Linked DNA regions of Homo sapiens: all the other regions are reported to be linked to region 4. Evidence: microRNA targets listed by miRTarBase, many of them from high-throughput screens and not tested one by one. Region 4 holds a microRNA gene; each other region holds the end of a gene's coding sequence.
Evidence for each region. Region 4 holds the annotated microRNA hsa-miR-924 (AGAGUCUUGUGAUGUCUUGC, at 4,164-4,183, opposite strand). A microRNA usually pairs through its seed, bases 2 to 8, with sites in the 3' UTR of a target mRNA and lowers its output. Matches are read on the target gene's strand: a 7mer-m8 pairs with bases 2 to 8, a 7mer-A1 pairs with bases 2 to 7 and ends in A, and an 8mer does both.

Region 1 (5,556 bases), not on the chromosome of region 4:
TTACAAGACAAAGCAGTGTCTCTCTAGACAATCTTAGAATATGACAATATATTAAAAATAAGTAAAACAAAGAACTAAGTCCAGGATCAAATTCATTTATTTTTAGAATATTTGATCAAAAAACATATATGTAAATGTGACCTAGGCTGTGGGCTCACTCCTGTAATCCCAATCCTTTGAGAAGTGGAGATAGGAGGATAGCTTGAGGCCAGCAGTTCAAGAACAGCCTGGGCAACATAACGAGACCACATATCAACAACAGCAAAAAATTAGCTGGGCATTGTGGTCTGTAGTCCCAGCTACTCAGGAGGCTGAGTGAGGCAGGAGGATCACTTGAGCCAGTAAAGGCTGCAGTAAGCTATGGTGATATCACCACACTCCAGTGTGGGCAACAGGATAAGACCCTGAAACAAAAGAAAAATGACACAGAGTATTTAGTATTTTAAAATAGTTTACATGGGAAGAGTATTAAGATACCCCATATAAACAGTTTTTTAAATAATAGGTATGGCTGGGTCACCTTGTAGAATATGTTGTCCAGTCACCTTCAAACAATTCAGACAGGGCAGAAAGCCTACACTTTGATGGAGAGTGTTAAAAATGCAAGTGCAATACTTGTTGATTAATATAGAAGTACTTATAAACAAACCCTTCATAATATGCTTCTCATTTTTGACAGGAGTCTCATAGAAGAAAAAGTCAATGAAATTAAAGATGACAGTCATTGTGGAGAAACTTTTACCCCAGTTCCAGATGACAGACTGAACTTCCAGGAGAAGAAAGCTTCTCCTGAAGTAAAATCATGTGAAAGCTTTGTGTGTGGAGAAGTTGGCCTAGGTAACTCATCTTTTAATATGAACATCAGAGGTGACATTGGACACAAGGCATATGAGTATCAGGAATATGGACCAAAGCCATGTAAGTGTCAACAACCTAAAAAAGCCTTCAGATACCGCCCCTCCTTTAGAACACAAGAAAGGGATCACACTGGAGAGAAACCCAATGCTTGTAAAGTATGTGGAAAAACCTTTATTTCCCATTCAAGTGTTCGAAGACACATGGTAATGCACAGTGGGGATGGACCTTATAAATGTAAGTTTTGTGGGAAAGCATTCCATTGTCTCAGATTATATCTTATCCATGAAAGAATTCACACTGGAGAGAAACCATGTGAATGTAAACAGTGTGGTAAATCCTTTAGTTATTCTGCTACCCATCGAATACATAAAAGAACTCACACTGGAGAAAAGCCTTATGAATATCAGGAGTGTGGGAAAGCATTTCATAGTCCCAGATCCTATCGTAGACATGAAAGGATTCACATGGGAGAAAAGGCTTATCAATGTAAGGAATGTGGAAAAGCATTCACGTGTCCCCGTTATGTTCGTATACATGAAAGGACCCACTCTAGGAAAAATCTCTATGAATGTAAGCAGTGTGGGAAAGCATTATCCTCTCTTACAAGTTTTCAAACACACGTAAGATTGCACTCTGGAGAAAGACCTTATGAATGTAAGATATGTGGAAAAGACTTTTGTTCTGTGAATTCATTTCAAAGACATGAAAAAATTCACAGTGGAGAGAAACCCTATAAATGTAAGCAGTGTGGTAAAGCCTTCCCTCATTCCAGTTCCCTTCGATATCATGAAAGGACTCACACTGGAGAGAAACCCTATGAGTGTAAGCAATGTGGGAAAGCCTTCAGATCTGCCTCACACCTTCGAGTGCATGGTAGGACTCACACTGGAGAGAAACCGTATGAATGTAAGGAATGTGGGAAAGCCTTCAGATATGTGAATAACCTTCAAAGTCATGAAAGGACACAAACACACATAAGAATACACTCTGGAGAAAGACGTTATAAATGTAAGATATGTGGGAAAGGCTTTTATTGTCCCAAATCATTTCAAAGACATGAAAAAACTCACACTGGAGAGAAACTCTATGAATGCAAGCAACGTTCAGTAGTTCCTTCAGTAGTTCCAGTTCCTTTTGATATCATGAAAGGACTCACACTGGAGAGAAGCCCTATAAATGCGAGCAATGTGGGAAAGCCTTCAGAGCTGTGTCAATCCTTTGAATGCATGGTAGGACTCACCCTGAAGAGAAACCCTATGAGTGTGAGCAATGACGGAAAGCCTTCAGATCTGCCCCACACCTTTGAATACGTGGTAGGACACACAATGGAGAGAAGCCCTATGCATGTAAGGAATGTGGGAAACCCTTCGGATCTGCCCAGAACCTTCGAATTCATGAAAGGACACAAACACACATAATGCACTCTGTAGAGAGACCTTATAAATGTAAGATATGTGGGAGGGGCTTTTATTCTGCCAAGTCATTTCAAATACATGAAAAATCTTACACTGGAGAGAAACCCTATGAGTGTAAGCAATGTGGGAAAGCCTTTGTTTCCTTCACTTCCTTTCGATATCATGAAAGGACTCACACTGGAGAGAACCCCTATGAGTGTAAGCAATTTGGGAAAGCCTTCAGATCTGTCAAAAATCTTCGATTTCATAAAAGGACACACACTGGAGAGAAACCCTGTGAATGTAAGAAATGTAGAAAAGCATTCCATAATTTCTCTTCTTTGCAAATACATGAAAGGATGCACAGAGGAGAGAAGCTCTGTGAATGTAAGCATTGTGGGAAAGCATTCATATCTGCCAAGATCCTTTGAATACATGCAAGAACACACAATGGAGAGAAACCCTATGAATGTAAAGAATGCAGAAAAGCATTCAGCTTGCCTACTTCCTTTCATAGACATGAAAAGACTCACACTGGAAGGAAACACTATGAATGCAAGCAATGTGGCAAAGCTTTCACTTCTTCCAGTTCTTTTCAATATCATGAAAGAACACACTAGGGAGAAACCCTATCAATGTAAGCAATGTGCAAAAGCCTTTATTTCTTCCACTTCTTTTCAATATCATGAAAGGACTCACATGGGAGAGAAACCCTATGAGTGTATGCCAAGTGGGAAAGCCTTCATTTCTTCTAGTTCCCTTCAATATCATGAAAGGACTCACACTGGAGAGAAGCCCTATGAATATAAGCAATGTGGGAAAGCCTTCAGATCAGCCTCGCACCTTCAAATGCATGGAAGGACTCACACTGGAGAAAAACCCTATGAATGTAAGCAGTATGGGAAAGCGTTCAGACCTGACAAGATTCTTTGAATACAGATAATGAATGTAAACAATTAACTGTTTATAATAACTGTATACTAACAAATGATATTCTTTTTAAATAAGAAGCTATAATATCCCATTGGTGTCATGTATTAGATCAGCCTTATACTGTTAAATTGTTATTATTTGGACATTGTGAGTCAGTATAACCATGTGGATAAAATGCCAGACATCTTTTTATTCGAAAATTTTACTTTTCATGCTTCTGTACTTACATTTTTATCTCAACCTTAATTTTTCTTTCTTTTTTTTTTTCCCCCAGAAAGAATCTCACTCTGTCACCCAGGCTGGAGTGCAGTGGCATGATCTCAGGTCACTGCAACCTCTGCCTCCAGGGTTCAAGCAATTCTCCTGCCTCAGTCTCCTGAGTAGCTGGGACTACAGGCATGCGCCACCATGCCAGGCTAATTTTTTGTATTTTTTAGTAGAGACGGGGTTTCACCATATTGGCTAGGCTGGTCTCAAACTCCAGACCTCATGATTTACCCACCTCGGCCTCCCAAAATGCTGGGATTACAGACATGAACCATCATGCCCAGCTGCAACCCTAATTTTTCATTCAGTCATAATACCAATAGTTATCTCATGCACCTCTGAGTGCCTTCTTCCCCAAAACCAGCAGTGCCATACCTGCTGTCAGCAAGGGTGTAATATACCATAGTGATAAATATGACCAAAAGCCATAAATGACTGTGAGATGTATGAGAATTACAAGTCACATTAGTAAGAAGAGAAAAATTTTGGTCATGTTTATGATTTGAAATACGTTTTCCTCTATCACATTTAAAAATATAGTTACAAAATGCCCTTGTTTTTGTCCTGATTCATCATGGTCACTGAGGAGCATCGTCTCATATGCCTGGTATGTGACACGTGTCTCTCCAACAATAAAAGACTTGGCCTTGGCTGGGCATGGTGGCTCACGCCTGTAATCCCAGCACTTTGGGAGGCCGAGGTCAGGAGTTAGAGACCATTCTGACCAATATGATCAAACCCCGTCTCTACTAAAAATACAAAAGTTAGCAGGGCGTGGTGGCATGCTCCTGTAATCCTAGCTATTCAGGAGGCTGACATAGGAGAATTGCTTGAATATAGGAAGCAGAGGTTGCAGTGAGCCGAGGTTGCACCATTGTACTCCAGCCTGGGCAACAAGAGTGAAACTCTGTCTTAAAAAACACAAAAAAAGACTTGGCCTTAGGGCCGAGTGCGGTGGCTCACGCCTATAATCCCAGCACTTTGGGAGGCCGAGGCGGGCGGATCACTAGGTCAGGAAATGGAGACCATCCTGGCCAACACAGTGAAACCCAGTCTCTACTAAAAAATACAAAAAATTAGTGAGGCGTGGTCTCAGGCTCCTGCAGTCCCAGCTACTTGGGAGGCTGAGGCAGGAGAATGGTGTGAACCTGTGAGGTGGAGCTTGCAGTGAGCCAAGATCGCGCCATTGCACTCCAACCTGGACGACAGAGCAAGACTCCATCTCAAAAAAAAAAAAAAAAAAAAAAAGACTTGGCCTTGTGGTGAGGGGAGGGCATCTGTAAACTCCTGGACCTGTTTTTGCCTTACTTATTCTCTAAAGACTAAAATATTTCCTAAAATGTACAGGCACTGTTTACCAGAAAGTACCTTAGTTAAAACATATAAATTTGTTTATGCCTTATAAAGCTATATTTTTTCAAATTGCTTTACTGAGTCATAGGAGGCTAATAAATTTGTGTAAATTGTCTAAATACAAGCCTGTCTTATATTTCTCTGATAATGTGCTGCTGATAATGTGCTGCTGAGGCTAACTTTCTCTGATAATGTGCTGCTGAGGTTAACTTGTCAACAGCCTGCTTATCTCAGCAGTGTAAAGTTAACAGCAACATGGAAAAGTTTCTTTTATATATTATGCAATGGCATAGAGCAATTCAGTCACTTCCTTTAAGGTTCCAATGAAGCTGCTCTTTAGGAACGCTTATTTCAAACTCCCTAAGGTCAAAATCCAGGCACCACAAGATGCAGCATCAGCCACTGACCAAACCCTGTCTGTGTGTGGAGATGACACACCCAGTCCCAGATAATGTATCCACACCAGTGAAGGGTGGAGTCGTTGATTGTCAGATCACACAAAGTGACTCAGAGCAGGGAAGACAGGGCAGTGAAACCTGATCAGGCACAGTGGCTCACACCTGTAATCCCACCACTTTGCTAGTCCAAAGCGGGTGGATCACTTGAGGTCAGGAGTTCAAGACAAGCCTGGTCAACATGGTGAAACCCTGTCTCTACTAAAAATACAAAAACTAGCTGGGCATCGTGGTGTGTGCCTGTAATCCCAGCTAATCAGGATGCTGAGGCAGGAGAATGGCTTGAGCCTGGAGAC
Region 2 (6,646 bases), not on the chromosome of region 4:
AAGAAGCAAAGAGCTGAAGACTTATCTTTTTTTTTTTTTTAATTTTAATTATACTGTTTTTCTCTTTCTTTTCTTTTCTTTTTTAGAAATGGAGTCTCGCTTTGTTGCCCAGGCTAGTCTCCAACTTCTGGGCTCAAGTGATCCTCCCACCTCAGCCTCCCAGAGTGCTGGGATTACAAGCATGAGCCACTGTGCCTGACTTGAAGACAATCTTTTTATTTTTATATTTTTTAATTTCTTTCTGAGAGTTTTACTCTGTCGCCCAGGCTAGAGTGCAGTGGCACAATCTCAGCTCACTGCAGCCTCTGCCTGCTGGGTTCAAGTGATTCTCATGCCTCAGCCTCCCGAGTAGCTGGGATTACAAGGTGTGCACCACCATGCCCAGCTAATTTTTGTATTTTTAGTAGAGACGGGGTTTCACCATGTTAGCCAGGATGGTCTCGATCTCCTGACCTCAAGTGATCCACCCACCTCGGCCTCCCAAAGTGCTGGGATTACAGGCATGAGCCACCACACTCAGCCTATCTTTTTATTTCATTTTTTGAGACGGAGTCTTGCTCTGTCGCCCAGGTTGGAGTGCAGTGCATTGATCTCAGCTTACTGCAACCTCCTCCTCTCAGGTTCAAGTGATTCTCTTGCCTCAGCCTCCCGAGTAGCAGGGAATACAGGCATGCACCACCACATCTGGCTAATTTTTATATTTTTTAGTAGAGATGGGGTTTCACCATGTTGGCCAAGCTGGCCTCAAAATCCCGACCTCATACGATCCACCCACCTCAGCCTCTCAAAGTGCTGGGATTACAGGCATGAGCCATTGTACCCGGCCAAAACTACCTTTTTAAAAAAACTGATTTTGGCCGGGCGCGGTGGCTCACGCCTGTAATCCTAGCACTTTGGGAGGCCAAGACGGGCGGATCACAAGGTAAGGAGTTCGAGACCAGCCTGGCCAATATGGTGAAACCCTATCTCTACTAAAAATACAAAAAAAATTAGTCGGGTGTGGTGGCGTGTGCCTGTAGTCCCAGCTACTCAGGAGGCTGAGGCAGAAGAATTGCTTGAACCCAGGAGACGGAGGTTGCAGTGAGCCGAGATCATGGCACTGCACTCCAGCCTGGACAAAAGAGCAAAATGCTGTCTCAAAAAAAAAAAAAACAAAAAACTGATTTTGCTTAGATTTGTGGTACCAGTGCTAAGCCTTTGTGTATCCTGATCCTTTTTCTCTTAGTGTTTTATATTTAATCTTGCAAGTAAGAAGGCTTACAAAGCACCACCTCTTCTCTCTCCTCTCTGGCTCTTTCCTGGCTGCTGTTCCTAGTAAAAAGGCAGAAAGCAGCCCTGGGCATATCTCCCTACCCCCAGCGTGCACAAACACACACACACATACACACACACACACACAGTCACAAACCTGGGAAAAGGCTTTACTCTTCACCCTGACAGAATCAATTAAGTCAAGACTCATCTCTGCAGTGGGTGCAGTCCCCCCAGGCAACACAGATCCCTGTCTCTCCCACTTACCCACACCATCAAGAAGCATTTGCAGGTGCCGTGACTGTTTGCTCATGCCTGCGTGTCATTTCCTCCTCCTGCAGATGAGCTGTCCATGGGACTGGGTCGTCTGAAGGACATAGCCCTGGGGATGCAGACAGAAATTGAGGAGCAAGATGACATTCTTGACCGGCTGACAACCAAAGTGGACAAGTTAGATGTCAACATAAAAAGCACAGAAAGAAAAGTTCGACAACTCTGAAGACAGACGGATTTCCACTCTATTGTGATGAAAAGATTTGAAAGATCTTTTTTTGAACTTCCAAGAAATTTCATTTACTATTTTAGTATGTAAATTAATGTGTGTTTGCAAATGTTATAATAGAGTAGGTCTTAAGACATTTTTGCTGTTATAAGGAAGTGTTTGTCCCACATTTTCCTAGGGTTAACACCTCACCAAGTTCTTCCAGCAAAATGCTTATTAGAGTTTTTGTCTGAGCACAGTAGCCTGGCCCTGCATATCTTGGGCGTTTGATTACCATGCTGGAATAAGAAGAGTTGCATTTCTCATTTTAATGAGCATATGGAAAGATGGGAACAGAATTTCAGTCTTGCAGCCATGAGCCTCTATTTCTCATTCCTAAGCCTTACCATGAGTCAGAGTGTTAAGGGGGCCTGTGAACCAGTCGTTTGGTGGAGGAGGGTCCTTCCCACACCTTTGTTTAGGAGTCATCATTCACACACACACACACACACACACACACACACACACACACACACACTCTCTGAGCACATTATCTGTGATTCTTTCATCCTCCCAGAAAGGATCAGTGTTAGAATGGGAAATAGAGTGTGCCATCTTGCTCTTTTGTTGGCAGATGTCCCCGCTTCCCTCCAGCCCCCCATCCTTGGCATGTATATTAGTAGGAGGGCTTCACACCAGCACTGCTCACTGCGACTCCTGGAAATGTGTGGGGAATTGGGTGAGCCCCTCTTCCCCACGTGCTCCCATCTGTAACTCTCCATCTGTGATTTGCAACAGGTCTTCCACTGGCTCGAGGCTGCGAGGCTGACCGACAGGGGCGCCCAATAGAGTTTGTGGGAATGGAGTATTGCACAGATGCAGCTGCACAATGGTCTTCCTCCACCCCTCTGGGAATCACCATTAGGCAGGCCTCAGTAGGGCAAAATGTTTATTTGGTACCGGGGGTCTCCTGACCTGTCTAGCATTCCCACCCACTCTTCTGCACTTCTTGCAAGGTAACTTGAATCATCACTTATTTCTCTGCCACCTGGTTTTAGGACTGGCACTCTATAAATGACGCTGACTTTGTATAGAAGGATTTTGCTAAGGGGGCAAAAAGCCCAGATACCATTTTAACTGGCCCAGTTCATTTTCTCCTTTCATTTTACAAAAGAAATCATGCAGAAGCATCAATTAAAACTGATTTATTTATGTTGGTACATCCAACAAAATAGTTGGAGCCACAAGGCCCTTGTCTTTTTAAAAAAACAAAATATTTTGAAGATGGTGAAAGTGACTGATTTTAATAATGAGATAGGTCACTTAAAATAACAGTGCCTTTGACCTTAAAACATGGCACTGGCCCATGTGACCTTTGCCATTTCCCAGTACTTCCCTTTACAGTCTGCAGCCTATAAACAGTGGTGTCTCAAAGCAAAGGAAACCTCCACAAGTGCTGCAACAGTGCATTAGTTTTTATGTAGCAATTTGTTTATAAAAATTCCCATCCCATAATGCATGACCTTCCTAAAAATATCCACAGCCTCCATAGGCAAGGTGAGCTTTCTGTGCTACCCACTTGTTAGATTCCAGCCACCTCAGGGATTCTGATCCATGTCATTAACGACCATCCCAGGGTGTGAGGGCCTGATTAAAGCTTATCGAACTAGACATTTGTTTATTAGATGAGCTCGGCATTATTATTTTCTCAATAACTGGTAGAAGGGAAATTTTAAACATAACACTCAACCCAAACAAAACTACTTCGTGAGGCTTTCAGCAAAAAGGCTGCTTAAAAGCATGAACCCGGGATGCAGAGCAGCTTTTGTGCACGGTTCCACTTACTGTAATTGTTTCTGGTTCTTTCCTCTAACACCTTCCATGTATGTCAACTTTTTATCACCGTCAGGCATAGACTCGTGGAGATTAGTCATTATAGCTCAGACCTAAGCTAATTATTTAAAATAAATACATGTAAAGGCCACTGCCACATTCTCAGCAGACTTCCACTTGCCTAATGAGATTAGTGATTCAACTGACTTGAAGCACAGTAACATCTTATTTTATGCACATTCCCTGTCTTTTGCTGGACTGATGAAGCCAGTCACCCGCCCTTCTCTGTTTTTTGGTTTTTTTTTTCTTAACCCCAGGTATATGGAAGGGGAGTTGCCTTCACTTTTCTGGAAATTTGTCTTCGTCTGACATATTAGAGGGCCTCGTTTTGTCCTGTTCTTGTTCAGACCCTCTCGTTCTACGTCCTGTGCTGAGGGGACTGTCCGTAAGCTACAGGACAGCGAGCTGGTCCTTTCTGCCACTTCTTCCCCACTCCCATGCCCAGGAAGGCCTGGTTGCTGATGCTACTTTATAAATGAGTTGCTTGCATTTTCACAGAGAATGAAGGAAGACGTAACATGGCTCCAGAAACTTTTCACATGATGATTGGGATCGACAAAAAAATGCTACCCTCTAGACTAGACACATTTCATGGAGACAAGCAAAATGGTGCCAGGGCTGGGCTGACTGTGGGATGGGATTTGGTACTGCAGACAGATTTTGATTTCCACAGTTGAGCTGGAAACAAACTGTGCCTTCAAAAAATGACTTTTCTAACTTAAGGTTGGTTATATGTTAAGTGTGCTACTAACTTAAAAAATAGTGGCTGGGCGCGGTGGCTCATGCCTGTAATCCCAGTGCTTTGGGAGGCCAAGGCGGGGGGATCACGAGGTCAGGAGATCGAGACCATCCTGGCTAACACGGTGAAACCCCATCTCTACTAAAAACACACAAAAAATTAGCTGGGCGTGGTGGTGGGCGCCTGTAGTCCCAGCTACTCAGGAGGCTGAGGCAGGAGAATGGCATGAACCTGGGAGGCAGAGCTTGCAGTGAGCCGAGACAGCGCCATTGCACTCCAGCCTGGGCAACAGAGCAAGACTCCGTCTCAAAAAAAAAAAAAAAAAAAAAATAGTGCACTCTCTGGCTGGTCACGGTGGCTCACGCCTGTAATCTCAGCACTTTGGAAGGCCAAGGCAGGCGGATCACGAGGTCAGAAGATCGAGACCATCCTGGCTAACACAGTGAAACCCCGTCTCTACTAAAAATATAAAAAATTAGTCGGGCATGGTGGCGGGCGCCTGTAGTCCCAACTACTCGGGAGACTGAGGCAGAAGAATGGCGTGAACTCAGGAGGCGGAGCTTGCAGTGAGCCAAGGCGACAGAGCAAGACTCTGTCTCAAAAAATAAAAAATAGTGCACTGTCCTTCGAGAAAGTTTTCTAACATCTAGTAATTTGTAACTTAGAAGTGGAGTTGCCTTGTGGATGTCTTTTTTGCATTCTGTAGGAAATGAAACGTGAATTTAACTCGGGTTGCAAGAAATAAAAATGTCAGTGCATTTAAATTTCTCTTTAACCTCTTTTTGTGAATATGTAATTTTAAGTGTACACTATACCAATTTAGTAATAATCTTATACTTTGCCCATATGGGCCTTTTCTGCAGATTTTTTTTTTTTTTTTTTTTTTTTGAGATAGAGTCTCACTCAGTCACCCAGCCTGGAGTGCAGTGGCACAATCTCGGCTCACTGCAACCTCCGCCTCCCAGGTTCAAGCAATTCTGCCTCAGCCTGTCGAGTAGCTGGGGTTACAGGTGTGCACCACCATGCCCGGCTAATTTTTTTATTTTTTTAATACAGACAGGGTTTCACTGTGCTGGCCAGGCTGGTCTCCAACTCCTGACCTTGTGATCTGCCCGCCTCAGCCTCCCAAAGTGCTGGGATTACACGTGACCTGTAGAATTTTAAAGTTACAAATGTTGTTCAGCATCTTCAGCTCTGATGAATGCGGTGTCAGTACAAAATGATGAGCTAGAGCCAGGGCATGGTGGCTCATGCCAATAATCCCAGTGCTTTGGGAGGCTGAGGCAGGAGAATCTCCTGAGGCCAGGAGTTTGAGACCAGTCTGGACAACATAGTGAGACCCCACCTCTAGAAAAAATTTTTAAAAATAGCTTGGCCTCTAGTCCCAGCTACTTTGGAGGCTAAGGTGGGAGAATTGCTTGAGCTCAGGAATTTGAGGCTGCAGTGAGTTATGATCATGCCACTGCACTCTGGCCTGGGCAACAGAGGGAGACCCTGTCTCTAAAAAATAATAAAATGATGAGCTAAGTTCGAGACCAGCCTGGCCAACACAGTGAAACGCTGTCTCTATTAAAAATACAAAAATTAGCCAGGCATGGTGGCATGTGCCTATAGTCCCAGCTACTCAGGAGACTGAGGCACGAGAATCACCTGAACCCGGAAGGCAGAGGTTGCAGTGAGCCGAGACCACACCACTGCACTCCAGCCTGGGTGACAGAGCGAAATTCCATATTAAAAAAAATTGATGAGCTAGTCATTAAAAGTGCTCATTATGGCTGGGCATGGTGACTCGCCTGTAATCCCAGCACTTTGGGAGGCCGAGGCAGGCAGATCATGAGGTCAGAAGATCAAGACCATCCTGGCTAACACGGTGAAACCCCGTTTCTACTAAAAATACAAAAAATTAGCTGGGCGCAGTGGCGGGCAGCTGTAGTCCCAGCTACTCGGGAGGCTGAGGAAGGAGAATGGCGTGAACCCGGGAGGCGGAGCTTGCAGTGAGCCGAGATTGTGCCATTGCACTCTAGCCTGGGTGACAGAGTGAGACTCCGTCTCAAAAAAAAAAAAAAAAAAGGAAAAAAAAAAGTGCTCATTATGTGGGGATGGGATGGGCTCTTTAGTTCGAACTGTTTCAGAACAGCACTTTTCCTCCATGCCTTCAACTCAACAAGTGACCATATTCCATCAAAATGTGAAGTTGTTTTTTTAAACAAATTTTGTCTCCTGTGTAGTTATTTCTTAGTGAGTTGGTGGAGGGGATCTTCCTCGTTGAGTCTTCATGCATT
Region 3 (6,646 bases), not on the chromosome of region 4:
AAAGATTCCAGTCAGAGGGACCAGCATGTGCAAAGGTCCTGAGGCAGGAGGGATGTTGGCATGTTTAAGGGATTGTCAGAAAGCCAATGTGGCTGGAATGGAATATAACTGGGGATTCAGTGCTATTTGCATTTATCCACAAACACTTTTCCTTAAAGTAGACTGAGGAGACTTCCTTGCAAACAAAAGCCCAATGGACAGAAGTACCTATTATATACCCCAGGTGTTCAGAGGGGTACAAGATCAATGAAATAGCTTCATTCGAGCTCTACCTTTTGCTAACTGTGTGACTTTGGGCAAGTTACTTAATATTTCTGAGGTTCAGTTTGTGCATCTGTAAAAATGAGATATAAAAACATTTATAGGCAGGCGCAGTGGCTCACGCCTGTAATCCCAGCACTTTGGGAGGCTGAGGAGGGTGGATCACAAGGTCAGGAGTTCAAGACCAGCCTGGCCAACATGGTAAAACCTTGTCTCTACTAAAAATACAAAAATCAGCCGGGCATGGTGGCACATGCCTGTAATCCCAGCTACTTGGGAGGCTGAGGCAGGAGAATTGCTTGAACCCAGGAGGTGGAGGTTGCAGTGAGCTGAGATGGGGCCACTGCGCTCCAGCCTGGGCGACAGGGCAAGACTCCCTCTAAAAAAAAAAAAAAAAAAAAAAAAAAAAAAAAAAAAAAAAAAAAAATTAATGAACAATGCAAGAGAGACTAAGGGGTGGGCTGAGTAGGGTGTGGATTGCTGGCACAGTAACACAGCCATAACCACAGGCTGGCAAATCTGAGGAGCTTGGGTACAAGGTTGTGCTGAACCACAGATAGAAGATGAAGCTAGAGCCTAGAAGAGGGGAGCTGGAGAAGGGGATTGTGTGGGGCTAACGACATTGGTCCAACTAAGGAGGTCGGCTCCAGGCAGGGACAGAAAGCCAGTGAACAGTCATCAGTACTCATGGACCCATGAGGGTGGGGCCATATGGCTGTTTGGCTGTTTTCCCCTGAATTCCAGGTTCTAGCAGGGGTTGTCAAGTGGATGGAAGGGTGATGGTTATCTAAGCATGGGAGTCCCCTCCATCCCATCCAGTGGTTAGGGGTCAGGAGGGCCTGCGCTGTAGCTTTGAGCATCCGTCCATCAGTGCCAACACTCTCCATAGAATGGTACTGGCAGCAGAATACAAGGCTGAAAGTATAGGGCAGTGCTAGTGATTCTGAGGCAAGGATCCAGGGCCCCAGCTATGAGGTTTGGGCTCTGTACAGAATCTATTTCAGAAGTAATACAGGACTTGGCAGACTCACTGAAAAGGTAAAGGAACCCAGTCTTATGGATGAACCCTTCAGAGTGAGTTGAACAATAGTAACACTGAGGATGCACAGGCTACTCTCTATATATTTATACCCTATTTCATTCCATAAATGCAGTGGAGTCTATTTAAAGAGGGTGTAAAAGTTTTGCTGTTCTTTTTAAGAATGATGAGGAAATGGAAGTAAAAGAAAAATAAAGATGGGAAATTTTAAAGGAAACGGTGGAATCAACACCCAAAATTCATGTTAAGTTCCTACAAAACTGCCAGAAGTGGGCTAAGAGTTTAGTTCTGAGCTGCCTGGTGGCCTTAGCAAGGAAGGGAAACAGAGCAGTCATGAGCTTTATGGTGTTCAGAAGAACAACCAGTAACTCAAAGAGATAGAGCTGTTCAGAGTATTGAAATTGGTGAGGCACTTTCCTGAGGGCCTCACACAGTGAAGATCCACAGTACCCAGGACTCCTGCCAGCACACTGGATCCTGGTTAGAGACTGCTCACACAACTCCTGCCCCATCTGGCCTAGCTCATTAGCTAGGGTGGATCTGAGGGGGCTTCCTACAGGTACAGCCGGGAAAGAGAGAACTAACATCTTTCTTCTCCTGAACACATCTCTATGTGCGATGATGCTTGGAGACCGACAGAGGTGTTTCTCAAAACCTGGGGATGAAGGATCTAAACGCCATCAGCTTGAATTCCCCATTTGGCACTGGAAGCCAGTGTAGAGTTGGTCTTGGCAAGAATGGAGATGTAATCAATGAAGAGACTATTAAGTGGAGTGAGGGTTCTAGAGCCATCTCCAGCTGTGGGGCTTCACTTGGCTTACCCTCCAGTGACTCACCCGCCGATGAGCAATCCTCATATGCCTGATTTAGAGGACTTACTCACCCTTCAGAGAAAGACTTTAATGCAATAAAGCAAATGTCAGCAAGTGGGCTGAGCTTAGCACATCACCCCAGCCTGCATCCAGCTTCCTACTCCCCGGCTCTCCCTACCCAAGGTTCCTTTAGCCACTCAGCACCTGCATAGGCCCACACAATGGGCAGGCTTCAGGGACACACTCCAAGGCTGGTCAGAGGCTCAGAGATGGGACACCACGAGGGATTAGGCACCAGCTAGATAAGAGCCCTGGAGAAATCTAGTCCACAGAGGTTGGAGATTAGCTCCAAACCACTGGAGAGCTGGGGGAAGGGCAAGGGCTAGAACCCACAACTTCTCACCATCTGGTCTAGTGCTCTTCACTGTGGAAGCTGTTTGGTTACACAGATGAGGGGAGTGGGCTGAAAGAAATTCAGCATCCTAACCCTGGGTGACCTTCTCATCTGTGGACTTTCCAAGGAACCTCTGAACACAGTTGGGGAAAGGAAAGACAGGTGGAGAGAAAGACCTCACGCAAAGCCTTTGAGGTGAGGAATTTAGAGAGCTGGGCTGCCTGTGCTCTGCCACCATCTTGCTATTTGTTGACACAATGCATGTCGGGAGAACTGGACACCCTTTGGACCCTCCAGCATTGAGAAGTATGGCTGGAATCCCTGTTATTTATCAGCTGACTGGGATGGCATAAACCCCAACCAGCTCCCTGTTCCCTCAGATTAGGAACAGGACCCAGGAGTTAGGCTGGAGCCCAGGCAGAGCCAATCATGGGGAGAAGCTGACAACTGCCCCTTCCTTCCTCCACCTACGCAGAGGAAGTTACTCACAAAGCAAGTCGATTCAGCCTTGGATTTAAACCTACTCATTGAGGGATTTACGTTGGAACTCCTGGGGAATTATCTAGAATTAGTTGCAAGAGTGGAAAGAGGGCGTCAGGCAGGCTGGCAGGGCAAACTTTCACCTCATTCACTTCTCCATCCCTTGGCCACTTACCCAGCCTTTTCTGAGTCTGCCATATGCCAGGCACTGGAGGGAGGTAGCTGGCCACAAGCTTGGCACTCAGGCTTACTGGAACCAAGGGCCTTATGCTTTAAGGGACTCTTGGGATCATCTAACTCAGCTCACTCTTCACAGGTGAGGAATCTGAGGTTCAAGTAGAGCTCTTTGCCTAGTGCGATGGCAGTGAAGGGCCCTGAGTGGGCAGATACTCTCACCACCTCCCTATGAGGCCTGCACTAAGGAATTCTCTTGCCGGTTAGCTTAGGGAAACCCCTCAGTTGGAAAGCAACATTCTGTATCGTCATGCCTATAGCTGCACCTCCACCACCATCACCCTGTTGTTCATTTACAAATAAATCCCAATGAAGCAGGCTGGGTCCCCACCCAAGGGTATTCCTACCTTATCCCAATTCACCAACAACATGAAGAAGTGCTTTTCTCCTTTTACTATTTTTATTTTACACTATAAAAAACAAGAACAACAACAACAACCAGTAACATACTGCTTTTCTTCACATTCACACGGGTCTTAGAAAATTATTGCCTTTTCCCCTGGAGAAATAACTAACAGACAAAAAGAAAAAAAAAGTAGTACCACGTTGCAAAATCTGCAAATCCCAGAAGTCCACAGCTTGAAGACAACCTCCAGGGGCAGGGAGGAAAACAATTGTCACAAGAGACATAAGCACACAGAAGGACAGGCAGCTGAGGAAACCAGTTTGCACCGCCACTGACCCAGGATACCTAGCAAGTACCCTTCTCCTCCTGGAATCTACTGCTACCACCTCGAAGGTATGACTTTTTTGGTCTATGATCTGAAGAACTCTTTTCCCAAAGGAAGAGTTGCTCTGAGAAGAGGTGGAATGAGACAAGTTCAAGTATGACTAAGAATCATGCCAAAGTCCAAGGTCAGTGAAGAACCCATGGCAAAAAAAATCCAGAAAAGCCAACATCTTGCTACTTCAACCAACTACCTCATTGGACCCAAGAGGGTGTCTACACAACATTTCAGGGTTCAAATCAGGATGCTGATCATGTCCCTACAAACCCTGTAGGGTTACTTTCCCAACTAGACGGTGATCAGCTTATGCCCCGAAGCAACAGAGACAGACATTGAAACTGCCAAAGTTCAAAAAATAAGGTGGAAATTGTGCTTCCTTCAAAATGAATTGGCTTCATAACTGCCTTTTCTCCTGGTCCAGCAACTTCTTTCTCCCACGTTGCTGCAGGTATTTATTGCCTTATGCTTGAAATGAAAAGGCGAACTCTGAGGTGCAAGGACTGGGCAGTCCCAAGAGGGCAGGGGTCTGGAAGTACAGTAGTCAGCACATGCTGTGCTCCCGTAATGGCTTGGCCTTCCTTCAGTCCCGAGAACCTACCCTGAGGTCCGTCTGAAGTTCATTTGCAAGCCTGGTGACCACTCACTATCTCACTGGGGCAGCATGACAGAATGAGGTCTTCAGTATTGCACAGGTATGAAATGTCCATGAGTCTTAAAAACAAAAATCACAGTTGCTCTTGGGGCTGGGCCGATTCCTCCATCCCAGTTTTAGCAGGATGTGGCCGTTGCCACAGGGCTTCTGCTGAGCTCTGAGACTGTTGAGTGGGTAGGCACCGGTGCCAGCACCGAGGCAGGGAATGTGCAGTAGGCACCCTGCATGTCAGGGCTCAGTGTCTGCAAATGGCCTATCAGTGAAGAGCCTGCTGCCTCCCCTTGGCAGGAGGGAGGCTGGGGGTTGGGCGTGGAGGGCAGGATCTCAGATTCGTACTGCAGGAGCTGGCCCATGAAGCCAAAGTTGGGCGAGACCATGCTCCTCCTCTGCTTGATGTAATCGAAGGCCTCCTTCAGGCGGAACTGCTTGGTCTTCATAAGGTAAGCCATGCAGATGGTGGGTGAACGGGAGATCCCAGCCTCACAGTGGACCAGGACCTTGCCTCCCTTTTCCCTGACACAGTCTGGAAGGAAGAAAAGATGGTGGGAGTGAGTTGGGATTAGAATCTAAGGGCAATGGCAAAACACAAGAATCAAACACTGGAGTAACCTAGATATGAAACTGTTGTGCCTGCCTAAGAGCCACGGCCCTACACTACACTTCTGCCAGTCTTTAATCCCCACTGGTGAGGATAGAGCTTTTGGGGTCCCAGCAAAGACTATCCCCAAGTAGGACCTTTACAGTTTACAGCAGCTATTGTCACAAGAGACATAAGCACACAGAAGCTTTACAGTTCCCAAGATACTTGCAGATTCTGCCTCTGGAGGCGATGGACCTGGAGCAGTCCCTTCCTGGGGATGCCATCTTAACCTAGGTTCCACTGATGGTTCCAAGAGGGCATTGGAAAATCCTTGAAATTGTGCACATTTTTATTGGGCACATACATTTTTCTAAGGAGAGCATCCCAGGCTCAAAGACTGACTTGGAGAAGCAACTCTTGTCTCTCCAGGTCTGATTCTAAGGGTAACAACCTAACCCCGATCCTGGTAGAGGCCTTCCGGTCTCTCCGGGCACCCTGTCTGGCTGTGCCAGGGCAGGATGCTTGGCTCAGCTCCCAGGGTTCTCACCACCAAACACACAATAAATAGCGCATGGCCACTAATTATAGCCCTGGCTAAGTGACGCCTACTAGACGGAGGATATAAATGGCTTTCACAAATTCCATCTTGCTCAACAATGGGAGTCGCTGCTATAAAGCTACCACCATCAGTTAGCATTCTTTAGCTCAATATGACAAAAAGGGGAGGATGCCTCCCTTCCTGTTCTACCTCCCAGCCCCCTGCCCCCAGAAAACCAGCTACAACTATTAAAAATGGGAAGGGGTGAAAGGTTAAAGATACGTACACATCAAATCCACAAAAAATACAGTCTTTCCAATTCCCTCTCTTGCTAGTGAGGAAACAATTACATCACAGGAAGTTAGATGTAGCTGGCACTACGCAGGCTACAATACGCAAAAACATTTACGATTTTGAAGGGCCAAAAGAAAAAGTCATTCCCCTTACCACCCTCCACTTCCCTGCCCCAAGGTCAAAGTATGCAAATCAATCTGCAAGATCTAAAAGATAAAATTTCTGAGGCATCAGGGAGGAATCCTAGAGTTTCCCCATCTGAACAAAAACCCCACAGCATACCCCAAAGCAGTTCAATAGGGGTGTCCTCCAATTCAGTCTGACTCAAAAGAAACAACAAAACAGTCTCTTTAAATTAGTTCAAAGGGGAGACCCCCAAGTCCCTAGAATTACAGAGTCGGGCTCCTATCTCCCTTCGCTCCTCTGTTGGCCTCCTTCAAAGTTTAGCTTTTAACTGGCCTAGTGCCACATCCAAGAATGCAAAGGGTCCAGAGTGTATTGCCTCTGGAGCCCACTCGACACCTCGGAGCCTGCCTTCCACATGGCCCTCTTCCCTTGGAAGGGGTCAGCATATATTCAGCACATGGCTCACTGGGGAGACCCAGTCTCTCCTTCCATTAGCAGGGCAAGCAAT
Region 4 (6,646 bases):
CCACTGCACCTGGCCGAAAATGGATTTTTATTTTCTACCACATGGTCAGGTTGCAAATTGTCTAAACTGTTATGATCTGCTTCCCTTTTAAATATAAGTTCCAGTTTCAGATAATCTCTTTGCTCACGCATAGGATCATACACTGTTAGAAGCAGCCAGGCCCATCTTGAATGCTCTGCTGCTTAGAAATTCCTTCCATCAAATACCCTAAATCATCATGTTCAAGTTCAAATTTCATAGATCCCTACAGCAGGCGCACACTGTCACCAGTCTCTTTGCTAAAGCATAGCAGAGTTGAGAGGTGACAACATGCTGGCGGCTCCCGCTCACTCTCGACGCCTCCTCGGCCTTGGCGCCCACTCTGGTCATGCTTGAGGAGCCCTTCAGCCCGCCGCTGCACTGTGGAGCCCCTGTCTGGGCTGGCCAAGGCTGGAGCGGCTCCCTCTGCTTGGGGGGAGGTGTGGAGGGAGAGGCGTGGGTGGGAACTGGGGCAACGCGCAGCGCTCATGGGCCAGCACAAGTTCCAGGTGGGTGTGGGCTCGGCGGGACCGCAATCAGAGCGTCCGGTCTGAGCTGCCGGCCCAGGGTAGTGAGGGGCTTAGCACCAAGGCCAGCAGCTGCTGAGGGGGCTCCGGGTGCCCCATCACTGCTGGCCTGCCCGTGCCATGCTTGAATTCTTGCCAGGCCTCAGCTGCTTCCCTGCAGGGCAGGGCTCAGGACCTGCAGCCCGCCATGCCCAAGCCTCCCCAACCCTCCCCCCACCCCGTGGGCTCCTGCGTGGCCCAAGCCTCCCCAACAAGCACCGCCTCCTGCTCTGTGGCGCCGGGTCCCATCGACCGCCCAAGGGCTGAGGAGTGCAGGCATGCAGCGCGGTACTGGCAGGCAGCTCCGCCTGTGGCCCTGGTGCAGGATCCGCTAGGTGAAGCCAGCTGGGCTCTTGAGTCTAGCTGGGACTTGGAGAACCTTTATGCATAGCTGGAGGATTGTATACACACCAGTCAGCACCCTGAGTCTAGCTTAAGGTTTGTAAATGTACCAATCAGTGCTCTGTGTCTAGCTAATCTAGTGGGGACTTGGAGAACTTTTGTTTCTAGCTCAGGGATTGTAAACGCACCAAACTGCACCCTGTCAAAACGGACCAATCAGCTCTCTGTAAAATGGACCAATCAGCAGGACGTGGGTGGGGCCACATAAGGGAATAAAAGCAGGCTGCCCCAGCCAGCAGTGGCAACCCTCTCAGGGTCCTCTTCCGCACTGTGGAAGCTTTGTTCTTTCGCTCTTTGCAATAAATCTTGCTGCTGCTCGCTTTTTGGGTCCGCACGTTCTTTATGAGCTGTAACACTCAGCACGAAGGTCTGCAGCTTCACTCCTGAGGCCAGCAAGACCACGAACCCACCGGGAGGAATAAACAACTCCAGATGGGAGTATTGAACAACTACAGACGCGCTGCCTTAAGAGCTGTAACATTCACGGGAAGGTCTGCAGCTTCACTCCTGAAGCCAGCGAGACCACCAACCCACCAGAAGGAAGAAACTCCGAATACGTGTGAACATCAGAAGGAACAAACTTTGGACACACCATCTTTAAGAACTGTGACACTCACCGCGAGGGTCCGCAGCTTCATTCTTGAAGTCAGTGAGACAAGGAACCCACCAATTTGGGACACAGAGTGACCTTTACTCCAGTTCCTAGTAAATTTCTCATCTCATCTGAGACCTCCTCAGCCTGGACTTTATTTTCGTATCACTATCAGCATTTTGGTCACAACCATTCAACACAACTCTAGGAAGTTCCAAACTTTCTTTCGTCTTCCTGTTTTCTTTTGAACCCCACAAACTGTTCCAACCTCTGCCCATTACCCAGTTCTAAAGCTCCTTCCATGTTTTCAGGTATCTTATTAGCAATGCCTCACTTCCTGGTACCAATTTTCTGTGTTAGTTCGTTCTTACACTGCTATAAAGAACTACCTGAGAATGGGTAATTTATAAAGAAAAGGGTTTTAATTGACTCACAGTTCTGCAGGCTGTACAGGAAGCATGGCTAAGGAGGCCTCAGGAAACTTACAATTATGGCAGAAGGTGAAGGAGAAGCAGACAGATCTTACATGGCCAAACAAGGAGGAAGAGGGCAAAGAAGTTGTTGCCACACACTTCTTTAAACAACTGGATATCATGAGAACTCGCTTAGTATCACGAGAACAGCAAGAGGAAAGTCCTCTCCCATGATCCAGTCATCTCTCCCCAGGCTCCTCCTCCAACAGTGGAGGTTACAATTTGGCATGAGATTTGTGTGGGTGCACTAATCTAAACTATATCATATAGCCACTGTGACCACAAAGTCAATCATAGTATAAGCATATTTAAGTCACACATTCATTATAGATCTTGTCTTCACAGGCCCTCCCTGGGTCACAACTTCAAGATTTTAGATAAAGAGGTCAAGCTGGCTTGGGTGTGCATGCAATTCATAAGGGTCAGAAGAAAAGACAGTTGGCTCTGCCCTTTCCTGAACTATAAAACCAGCCATAGTCCTCTGAAGGAGGTGTGTGCTTGAGATTTTGATCCATTGTGCTGTAATTAATGACTTAGGGGGAAAGGCATTAAGATGTAGGTTTGAAACTGCAAATTACTAGAACAACTGCCTGTTTCATATTCTGCTATTTACAAACTGTGGTGGGGGAAAACAGTAACAACCTATAAGGAATCTTGAAAAAAGAAACTGCGTGACAGAGGAGATCATTGTTCTCTGTATTGCAACACACATTCAGAGGCCCTTGAAGTGAAATAACTTAGATATTTTTTTCTTTTTTGTTTGTTTTCTGTTTTTCCCTTTGGGCCGTCTACAAGTGAACCAGTCTAAATTGGTTTAATCAATCAATAGGAATTTGCAATTCTATGCTAAGTGCAACAACAGATAGTAAAAGACTATAAAATACAAAGAGGTATTCTGTGAAATTGGGGCATACAAGAGACAGGCTTCCCCTGCTCCTTTGATCAGTCTCTCAGATATCTCCTAGGGCTTGAATACCAGACATGTCACCACTTCCAAATACTTCAATATTGGCTACCAGAGGAGAAAGATTCACTTCTGGTCTGTCATTCTAATATGGTCTTTAGACCCATGGGGCTAAGTGATAAAGGTTCACAAGTCTTCTGTAATATTGAAAACAAACAAACAAACAAGAAAACACTAAATTAAAGCCTTTTTCAGGTAACTAAGAAAAACCTGCTCAGACTTAGATCAATGTCAGGCTTCTTTGCTTTGTGTAAAGTAACAACTCATTGGAATAACTCTGGTTGAAGTGATATAGCTTGTGCTGATCAAAAAATTTGGAGAGTATATACCTATGATTAGTAAAAATGTCAAAAAGCCTATTGCTAAATAATTTAAAATGTGGAGTCCTCAGTGGAAAAATTATCTGTGTGCCTATTATTGGGGTTCAGAAAACAATACCCAAAAATATGACAATGTGCTCTTCCAAACAAAGCACAGGATTTAGGCTTTTCTCTGAAATTTCCTTATCTACTTTAAGACTGGACCTGCCAAAGGAACCCAACTGCCCTCCATTCCCTCTCTGAAATCTCATTACCTATCACAGAAAAGAAGACAGGAATGCAACCATATCTGGAGGGACATTTTTATAAGATAATGTCTCTCAGCCTTATTTGAATTCCAAAGAGAATCATTTCCAAGTTAATTTTTGTCTGTTGAGTCCATTCATTCCCCCTAAAAATCATTTACTACCCCTCAAAATTGCTACAACCTTGATTGCCCCTTCTCCTGAGAAGGTTATATAAATACCTGGACCTCATTGAGTTATTGGGCCATCATTCTCCTGTGATTCCCTCGTACTCCTGCACATTAAATAAATGTTGTATGCCTTTTTGTATTATTAATCTGCCTATTTTCAGTTTATTTTCAGCAAACCTTTAGAGGGCAGAGGGGAAGCTTTCTTTGCTCCTACAGTATATACCAATGAGATTTACAGAGGCAAAATGAGAACTTTATTTTCTAAAAGCAATCTGCAGACTGGGGAGATGCAGCCTTCAGTGCAAACCAAAATACACACCGAAGAGGAGTCAAGGAGTAGAAAATTATTATAAAGGCAAAAACCATAGGATGGAAGGGAATCAGTTGTAGACTCTAGGTTGGATGGCCCTTAAGCAAGACATCACAAGACTCTATTGACTGGCTTAGGTGGTCTGTGGGTGGTCAGTTGAGGAATTTTCACCAGCAATCTATCTTAGGATAAATAACAGAAACTGGTTTAGTTTGATTGCAGAAAGAGGTCCTGTGACACTTTTAAAACATTTTCCCAAGAATACAGAGTATGTGATCCCTTCCTCACCCAGCCTTGGCTGCCTGGTTCTGTTTTAACCTTGAGCACCTCAGTTAGCCAAGAGAAGTCCATTTTGTCCATCAGCCAAGAGCATATTTTAACAGTGTGTGGAATAGAAACCCAAACCCTAAGTGAATCCTTCTTTATATGAGTCTCTTTGTACCATTTTCTCTACTCTCCAGCTCAGACATGAATTTAAATTTTCCTTTTTGCCCCAATTTTTATCTATAGATTCCTCAAAGTAGTCTGAGGAATGTGAGGTATGTAACATTTTTCATGCCCAGAGAACCATGAGCATGAGACTTCACTCACCCTCTCATCCCACACATCCATGCTTGGAGGGTAATTGTTTAAAGGCATTTGGTTTTTTTCTTTCCTTCCGTGTAGTTTCCAGACTAGCTGATAAACTTCCTAAAATATTACCCCAAGTTTTACAATGTGACTCTCACCTATTTTCTTCATGTTCCTGGGATTTATGATACAAAGAATAATAAATAGTCAACAGCTTATTATTTCAATAAACAATATACCTTATTTAAAAAATTTTTAGGAACTGCCTCTAACTTCTACTTCTTCATTTTTTCTTTGAAAATCCACTTGGAACTGCTGTAAATGCTAACAGCAGCATATATTCAGGACTACTTGAATCTATGACTCTTGGACAGCAGTCCTCAACCTTGGCACAAATAAACTGTTCAATTATATTAATTTTGCTTCATTTTCAACCTTTAGGTGCACAGAATGTTAGAATAGGTAGCTAGGCAGACATGAGCATGGCAGGAGAGGGCCTTCTACCCCGTGAAGGGCAACCATAGCTGGTGCCAGGAAATGGCAGTCTCCCAAAAGACAGAAAACACGCGAAACTGGTGATCAGTAGCTTCCTAAGATCTCAGGAGTTTGGTGAGCAGGCTTAAGTATGCACAGTAAAAGGCAAAATGGTAGAGTTTAATTGGTATATGACCTTCCTCTAGGAACACTCCACTGGTAAGGGAAAAATGCCTCAAATGAGCATGTGCACAATTGCAGTAAACACTGTGCATGCAGCCCCTCTCAAGTGCTGACAGACCACTGCACGTATGTACAGATAGCCAGCCCAAAAAAAAATCAAGGGAGATGAAATGCAAACCCCAGAACCACGCCAATGTATAAAACCCCAAGTCAAGGGTCGGATGGAGAGCACGTGGATCTCTCAAGTCACCCACTTGGCCCTTTTCCATGTTTACTTTACTTCTTTTCATTCCTACTGTAAAACTTTTTAATAAGCTTTCACTCCTGTATTCCTAGGCTTACTATGACTGATCAATAAAGGTCACTGAGATTCAGATCATAAGATTTAGATGGGTAAATATGGCAAATATTAGGGTATTTTCATTCTTTCCTCTGGGAGTCAATGTTATCTCTCACAAATATGAATGTTACATTAATACTAACTGACAATATTAAGACTGTTAAATGAGCTTTCCTCTATCCCAGCATCTTGTTTTGAAGCATGGTGTTCTAGGTGTTAGGAAGTAGAATTTTACATACTCTTTTCTTTAAAGGTCAATATGACCTATTATTTGATGGAGAATTTCATGTTAACACAAACAGATTGTTGTGAGGAAAAGTTAAAAATGCACACAGTTTTAAAATACAACGCAAGATTCAAAGAAACTAAATGTTTGTAAACTATTGCTTATATCCAAGTACTTGAATCCCTGATAGTACGTTTCCTTTTTTCTGACTTTAACAAAATAATAGCATTTTCTGAGCCCTTACTATGTGCCAGTCACATACTTAATCCCTTCATACATCCATTATTTTATTTAATTCTCACAACAATTCTAGGGTGTAGGCATTATCACTACCATTTTAGATGTATGAAAACTGTTCATAAAATGTTAAGTAACTTAGCTAAAGTCATCAGTAATGTATAGTATTCAGATTCAAAGTCACGTTTATTTGAATCCCAAGATCACTTTTCTTGGCAGAATTAAATAATTAATTTAAGAAATTGAGAATTACTGATTACCAATCACAGTAAGAATTAGAGGTTTATATGCCTTGAGATCTCAACTTAGATCTTCCAGAAATCAATTTTAACATCTGGACAGCTAGTTAAAGATACTGTGCCAGAATAAAACCTAATTTCCAAGTAACAAACATTTCCTTTTAAGTTTGATTAATGATAATTATTATGCCAGGATACACTTAACTATGTATTAAATGAAATGATTAGTTTAAATCATGTAAGCCTGAGGATGAAGAACAAGACTTGTATTGTGTTAACTCCAATGAAAATAGGACAAAGGTGACTTTATGCTTGAT
Region 5 (6,646 bases), not on the chromosome of region 4:
GACTGTTTCAACTACAAATAGTCTTTCCCTCATCTTAACATGTTGTTAATTTGGCAAATTAACATATATTACTGCCTTATAATATTTCTTCATGGCTGAAACTACCATTTTAATATTTGACCAGATTATGCATAATGAAAAATAGAAAAAAATAGAGAATAAAAAAGAATTTAAAACTACCTATGAAACAATCTTCATACAACCACTACTGGTATTTGATATATTTCCCTCTGGATTTTTTTTTCACTAGATATGTGTGTGGGTTGTTTTCTTTTACTATAAATATCATTATTCTTGTTACTGATATCATATTGTTATTAAATTTTTCTCAAAATTTCTAGTCTGTCAATTAAACAGACCTTGAGGAAGAATATTACGAATTGTAAAGATTTTCAATGACTTGCTTTGCATGACTTCTGGCAGATACTAGGGGATGACTCAATATTTATTTTATTTACTTCTCATTCCAGTACTTCATAGCCGTGGGTTCCAAGCAGGTGCTGTGTCTTCTGCAAAACGAACAATAGTTAGCAAAAGATTGCCTTGGAGCAGGGGCTGGGGGTGCTGCAGAACTATGCCCAACATTTCTCAGAGCATAGAATCGAAGGAGCTCTTGAAGAGGAGTCTTGAATTTGTTCTCCTCAGAGGTCTCTGGCACTATTTATTATTGCCGTGATGGTACAAGTAACAGGTGACATCCTCAGAGTCCCGAAAGGACAGATTTCCTAACAAGTGGCAGATAAAAGCTGGAGCAAAATGATGAGAATTATTCTAAAAGCCGGAGATTTGACCTATATTGCTTTTATATTGTTTGACTGATGTTGATACTCGATTCTACCTGAAGGACACAAGTAATGCGAAATATATTGGTCATGAATCCAGTGGCATGTGAAAAATACTTGGGGCCTCTCAGCTTGCCACCATCCTAGGTTAATATTTCTCTGTATATTGGATGGTGGAATAGCACTGGGATTTTGAGTAATGGCACCTGCGCTGCTCTGTATATCACCCAAGTGTTCATATTGGCCTATAAATTCATTTTCACAAAACCCTCACTGAATTATTTAAACAGAAGGACCCTAGAATGTCTTCCTGATAAAATGGCACTTTAAACACATGACATGGGCTTGCTTAGGCACAGCCAGCTCATGTAACAAGCAAAAATCAATACTTATTCCCCAGGGTTTCTCTAATGTTATCATCTCCCAACTCACATCCCCGCCCCCACTGCCCCCTGACCTATCCCACCCAGGACTTCATATTGCTACTTTAAAGTGAAAACAGATGATGTCTGGGAAAAGTTCATATATTTTGGTGACTAATTTCTAGACAATACCAAGAGGCAAATGGTGGCTTTAATGACATTCTTGCAGGAAAGTTGAACTTTCCTTGAAAAATAGAAAAAAGCTAGGAAACTTTATTTTCATCCTTACTCAGTCTCTGAGCTTACAGATCAAAACATATCTTCTGTTCTCAGGTGAGCACTCTGCACAAGGAAAAACCAAGAACTGACAGCTTGAGGAATTCTCTCCACACCTAGGCAATAATTACGTAAGTTTCCCAATTTCATTCACGGAGACAATCATTAATATCTGTTTTGTTAGCCTGGTGCAGCTTAGATTGTTTTTAAAGAATTTCAAAAGCTGGAAAGCTAATGGTTTGTGTCAATGCAATGATCATTGTCTATTTGTCTAAAAACAAACTCTAACAAAAATTGCCAAAAAATGAATGACCTGGTGGTTGTAGACGATTTGTCCAATTCTCTTGCCTGTCTAAGGAATGACACAATTTGCTCTTTCTGCCTGTTGTTAATGTTTCCTTGTAAATTCAGTCTGCCTACCTAGGTCAGTAAGCACACACTAACTGTGGCACTTAGACAGGCTTCTGTTGCTGACAAAGACTGGCAGAATCCAAGTGACGGTGCTTGCAAATTTGCAGTTTATTGCAAGAAAATGATAAAATATAGAAACTGCATTAAAGTAAAGATGTGTATCACAGCCGTAGGCTGGCTCAGGGAAATGGGTTCAGAGAAGCTAGTTGAAGGGTCTAATTGCCCTCTCTCTATAAGGACCATACCAGAATATGGTCCTTATATTTTTCTCTCTGGGTCCAGAAACCATGGATGTGTGGAAAAAAACACCTCAAACAAGATGATCTAAAATTCAGTTTCAGCCAGGTTTCCTTTTACTCAGCTGGTCATGTAGACATAGTCTTGCTGTGTAACCAGCCAAGCAACAGAGCCCTCCAGGTATCTTGACAAAACCAGATACAAATGATCAATCTTACTACAATAATTGTGAATCAATAAAAAATGGAAATTTCTCAAAAGTATGTTCCATGTCATGACCAGGAGTAAGCTCAAGGCAGGTACGTTTCTTATTTTAGTAAACAGCTCAGGCCAACGTTAAACCTGCTTTGGAATTAAGTCTCCCAGTTGGTATGGGATTGACTTTTACTTTCCTAGAACTAAGTAAGGAAATGCTCTTCTGACTTTAATTTAATTGTTACAAGAAGTATTGATTAAGTGCTGTCACTTAGTTTTTGAGGTTTTATAAAACTTGCAGAAGAATCTACCTTTCGGCAACTAACAATAAAAAATAAAATAAAATAAAATAAATACGTGTCCAGAATTGGCCTGACCACAATGATAGTCACTCTAGGTAAAGTGTCCACGATGAGAAATATTGTTATTCATGGCCTATGTCTAATCCCTAATTAACTAACACTGTTCTGTTACAGACACTCAGAAATTTCTTGTAGAATAAATGGTACCTGCTGTGCTTGTCTGACCAGTAGCAGAAGACAGAGACAGAGGAGTGCCATCCAAACATATGTGTCAGTATCAGAATTTTATCCCTCTCTAGCCAGTAATTAGGGATGGATTAGGAATCTTGGAATTTGTGCACCTCCAGCATGCTGCAGTGCCCTATGGAAAAGAGGCAAGACTGCCTTCCCCTGCCCTCCTGCTCTTCACCAGTCATGAGCCCCTAGCTTGGGCCTGCAATGCAACCACCTTTCCCCAGCTGATTATTCTAATTGGCAGTGGCTCTGAGTGGCATGCCAAGGTCCCTGCCCCTGCTGCCACCAAGCTGGGGAGAGAGAAAAAATCCTAAGCTTGTCTCAGGCCTGCAGTGCACAGTCTGGGAGTGCTAAGCTGAGATCTATGACCAGCACTTGAGTGGGAGAGGATCACACACTCTCAGAGCACTGAGGGGAAGCATGGCTACAAATGTGAGGAAACACAGAGGGGCTGCATGGCTGGGTAAGAGCCTATCTACCAGTCATTATGTTTAAGCACTATCTATTAAATTGCAAACCAAACTTCAACACCAAAAATACTTTGGTAATATACTCCTCTGTAAAACCAAGGACAAGAACTCAACTGCAAATAAAGACCCTGCACAAAGCCTCAGCCCTCTGAACACATACAGAAATGAAACCGACTGACTATACTCAAATTACACTGCAATTAAAGAAACATCAGTCCACATAGGTGAGAAAGAACCAGCTCAAGAACTCCTGAAACTCTAAAAGCCAGATTGCCTCCTTACCTCCAAATGACTGAACTAGCTGCTCTGCAGTGATTCTTAACCAGAATAAAATGGATGAAATTACAGAAATAGAATTCAGAATCTGGATGGCAATGAAGATCACTGAAAATCAGAAGATTGAAACCCATTCCGAGGAATCTGAGGAATTCAACAAAACCATACAAGGAATGAAATATGAAATAGCCATTTTAAGAAAGAACAAAACTGATCTGACAGAGCTGAAAAACTCACCACAAGAATTTCATAACACATTGGAAGTATTAACAGCAGAGTAGACCAAGTCAAGTAAAGAATCTCAGAACTCAAAGACTAGTTCTTCACATTAACAGTCAGATAAAAATAAAGAAAATAGAATTTTCAAAAATGAACAAATCTCCAAGAAACATGAGATTATGTAAAAAGACAAAACTTATGACCCATTGGCATCCCTGAAAGACAGGGAAAGAAAGCAAGCAATTTGGAAAACATGTTTGAGGATATTGTCCATGAAAATGTCCCCAACTTAGCTAGAGAGGTTGATATTCAAATTCAGGAAATTCAGAGAACCCCAGCAAGATACTATATAATACAACCATCCCCAAGACACATAGTCATCAGATCCTCCAAGGTCAATGTGAAAAGAAAACTATTAAAGGTAGCTAGGGAGAATGAGCAGGTCAACCTACAAAGGGAACCACAGCAGTGGATAACACTGGACCTTTCAGCCAAAACTCTACAAGCCAGAAGAGACTGGGGGCCTATATTCAGCATCCTTAAAGAAAAGAAATTCCAACAAAGAATTTCATATCCAGCCAAACTAGACCTCATAAGCAAAGGAGAAATAAAATCCTTTTCAGACAAGCAAATACTAAGGGAATTCATTACCACCAGACCTGCTTTTCAAGAGGTTCATAGGGAGTGCTGAATATGGAAATGAAAGACCATTACTGGCTACTACAAAAACACACTAAAGTTCATACACCATTGATGCTATAAAGCAAAAACACAATCATGTCTACGTAACGCCAGGTAACAACAGAATGACAGGATCAAATCCACACATATTAATATTAACCTTGAATGGTAGTGGGCTAAACACTCCACTTAAAAGGCATAAAGTGGCAAATTGATTAAAGAAGAAAGACCCAAGTGTATGCTGTCTTTAAGAGACCAATCTCACATTCAAGGACACCTATAGGCTCAGAGTAAAGGGATGGAGAAAGATTTATCAAGCAAATAGAAAACAAACAAAAAAGAGCAGGGGTTGCTATTCTTATTTCAGACAAAACAGACTTTAAACCAAAAATGATCAAAAAGGACAAAGAAAGGAAGTGATAAAGGGTTCAACTCAACAAGAAGACTTAACTATCCTAAATATATGCACCCAATACTACAGCACCTGGATTTATAAAACAAATTCTTTTAGTCTTACAAAGAGACATAGGTAACCACACAATAATAGTAGATTTCAACACCCCACTGATGATATTGGAGAGATCATCAAGACAGATTACTAACAAAGACATCTGGGACCTACATTTGACAATTGACAAAATAGAACTAACATGCATCTACAGAAAAGTCCACTCAACAAAAGCAGAATATAAATCCTTCTCATCCATGCATGACACATACTCTAAAATTGACTACATGCTCAGCCAGAAATTCTCAATAATTTCAAAAAAGCCAAAATCATACCAGCCACATTCTCCGACCACAGCACAATAAGAGTAGAAATCAATACCAAGAAGATTTTTAAAAACCCTACAACTAAGTGGATATTAAATAATCTGCTCCTGAATGACTTTTGTGTAAACAATGAAATTAAAGCAGAAATTATGAAATTCTTTAAAACTAATGAAAGCAAATATACAACATACCAGAATCTCTGAGATACAGCTTCAACAGTGTTAAGACAAAAGTTAATAGCACTAAATGCCCACATCAAAAAATCAGAAAGATCTCAAATTGACAATCTAACATCACACCTAGAGGAACTAAACAAATAAGAACAAACTAATCCCACAGCTAGCAAAAGAAAAATAACCAAAATCAGAGATGAATTGAGTGACATGGAGATGATAAGAACTATGCAAAAGATCAACAAAACCAAAAGTTTGCCTTTTGGAAGAATAAATAAGACTGATAGACTGTTAGCTAGACTAAAAATGAAAAAAGAGAAGATCCAAATAAACACTATCAGAAATGATAGTGGATATTACCACTGACTCCACAGAAATACAAAAACAAACAAACAAACAAAAAATCCAGAGACTATTACAAACATCTTTATGTACCCAAACCAGAAAACCTAAAAGAAATAGATAAATTCCTGGAAAAATACAACGTCCCAAGATTGAACCAGGAATAAATTGAAACCCTGAACAGACCAATAATGCATTCCAAAATTGAATCAGTAATAAAAAAACCCTACCAACCAGAAAAAGCCCTGGACCAGACAGATTCACAGCTGAATTCTACCAGGTGTACAAAGAAGAGCTGGTACCAATCCTACTGAATCAATTCCAAAAAAACGAGAAGAAACTCCTCCCTAACTCTTTCTATGTGGCTAACATCACACTGATATCATGAAACCTGCAGAAACACAATGAACAAAGAAAACTTCAGGCCAATATCTCTGATGAACCTAGATGCAAAAGTTCTCAACAAAATACTAGTAAAGTAAACTGAACCCAGAAGAATGTCATAAAGCTAATCCACCATGATCAAGAAAGCTTCATCCCTGAGATGCAAGGTTGATTCAACATACATAAATCAATAAGTGCAATTCATTACATAAACAGAACTCAAAACAAAAATTGCATGATCATCTTAATAAGTGCAGTCAGAAAAGGCTTGTGAAAGAATTTAACATCTTTTCATGTTAAAATCCCTCAACAATCCAGGCATTGAAGAAATATACCTCAAAATAATAAGATCCATCTATGACAAACCCACAACCAACATCAGACTGAATGGGAAAAAGCATCTGGAATTGTTCCTGGGAAAACTGTAACAAAACATGGATGCCCAGTCTCACCACTCATATTCACATGGTATTGGGAGTCATAGCCAGAGCAGTCAGGCAAGAGAAGAAATAAAAGGCATTCAAATAT

Region 1: the mRNA of ZNF440 is a reported target of hsa-miR-924. Seed matches in the 3' UTR shown: 8mer at 2,777-2,784.
Region 2: miRTarBase lists SNAP29 as a target of hsa-miR-924. Seed matches in the 3' UTR shown: 7mer-m8 at 4,660-4,666 and 7mer-m8 at 4,951-4,957.
Region 3: the mRNA of DUSP5 is a reported target of hsa-miR-924. Seed matches in the 3' UTR shown: 8mer at 4,655-4,662.
Region 5: miRTarBase lists EMCN as a target of hsa-miR-924. The part of its 3' UTR that is shown has no 7-base or 8-base seed match.

Annotation. Positions count from the first base shown.
Region 1 is chr19:11,830,689-11,836,244 of GRCh38, forward strand. It overlaps ZNF440 (zinc finger protein 440), which reads left to right. Exons shown (of 4, transcript NM_152357.3): 4 at 680-4,528. The coding sequence ends at 2,276. Among named protein-coding and RNA genes, the nearest start is that of ZNF439, 15 kb to the right of the region's middle.
Region 2 is chr22:20,886,087-20,892,732 of GRCh38, forward strand. SNAP29 (synaptosome associated protein 29) reads left to right here. Exons shown (of 5, transcript NM_004782.4): 5 at 1,593-5,128. The coding sequence ends at 1,750. Among named protein-coding and RNA genes, the nearest start is that of CRKL, 28 kb to the right of the region's middle. RefSeq lists an enhancer at 1-185.
Region 3 is chr10:110,508,497-110,515,142 of GRCh38, reverse strand. DUSP5 (dual specificity phosphatase 5) reads right to left here. Exons shown (of 4, transcript NM_004419.4): 4 at 3,610-5,123. The coding sequence ends at 4,717. Among named protein-coding and RNA genes, the nearest start is that of DUSP5, 14 kb to the right of the region's middle. RefSeq lists enhancers at 2,042-2,311, 2,392-2,441, 2,872-2,951.
Region 4 is chr18:39,617,990-39,624,635 of GRCh38, forward strand. MIR924 (microRNA 924) reads right to left here and starts at 4,186; the gene lies at 4,134-4,186. The region is part of intron 2 of MIR924HG (MIR924 host gene); the gene reads right to left.
Region 5 is chr4:100,405,187-100,411,832 of GRCh38, reverse strand. EMCN (endomucin) reads left to right here. Exons shown (of 12, transcript NM_016242.4): 11 at 1,478-1,551. The coding sequence ends at 1,512. Among named protein-coding and RNA genes, the nearest start is that of SNORA101A, 13 kb to the right of the region's middle.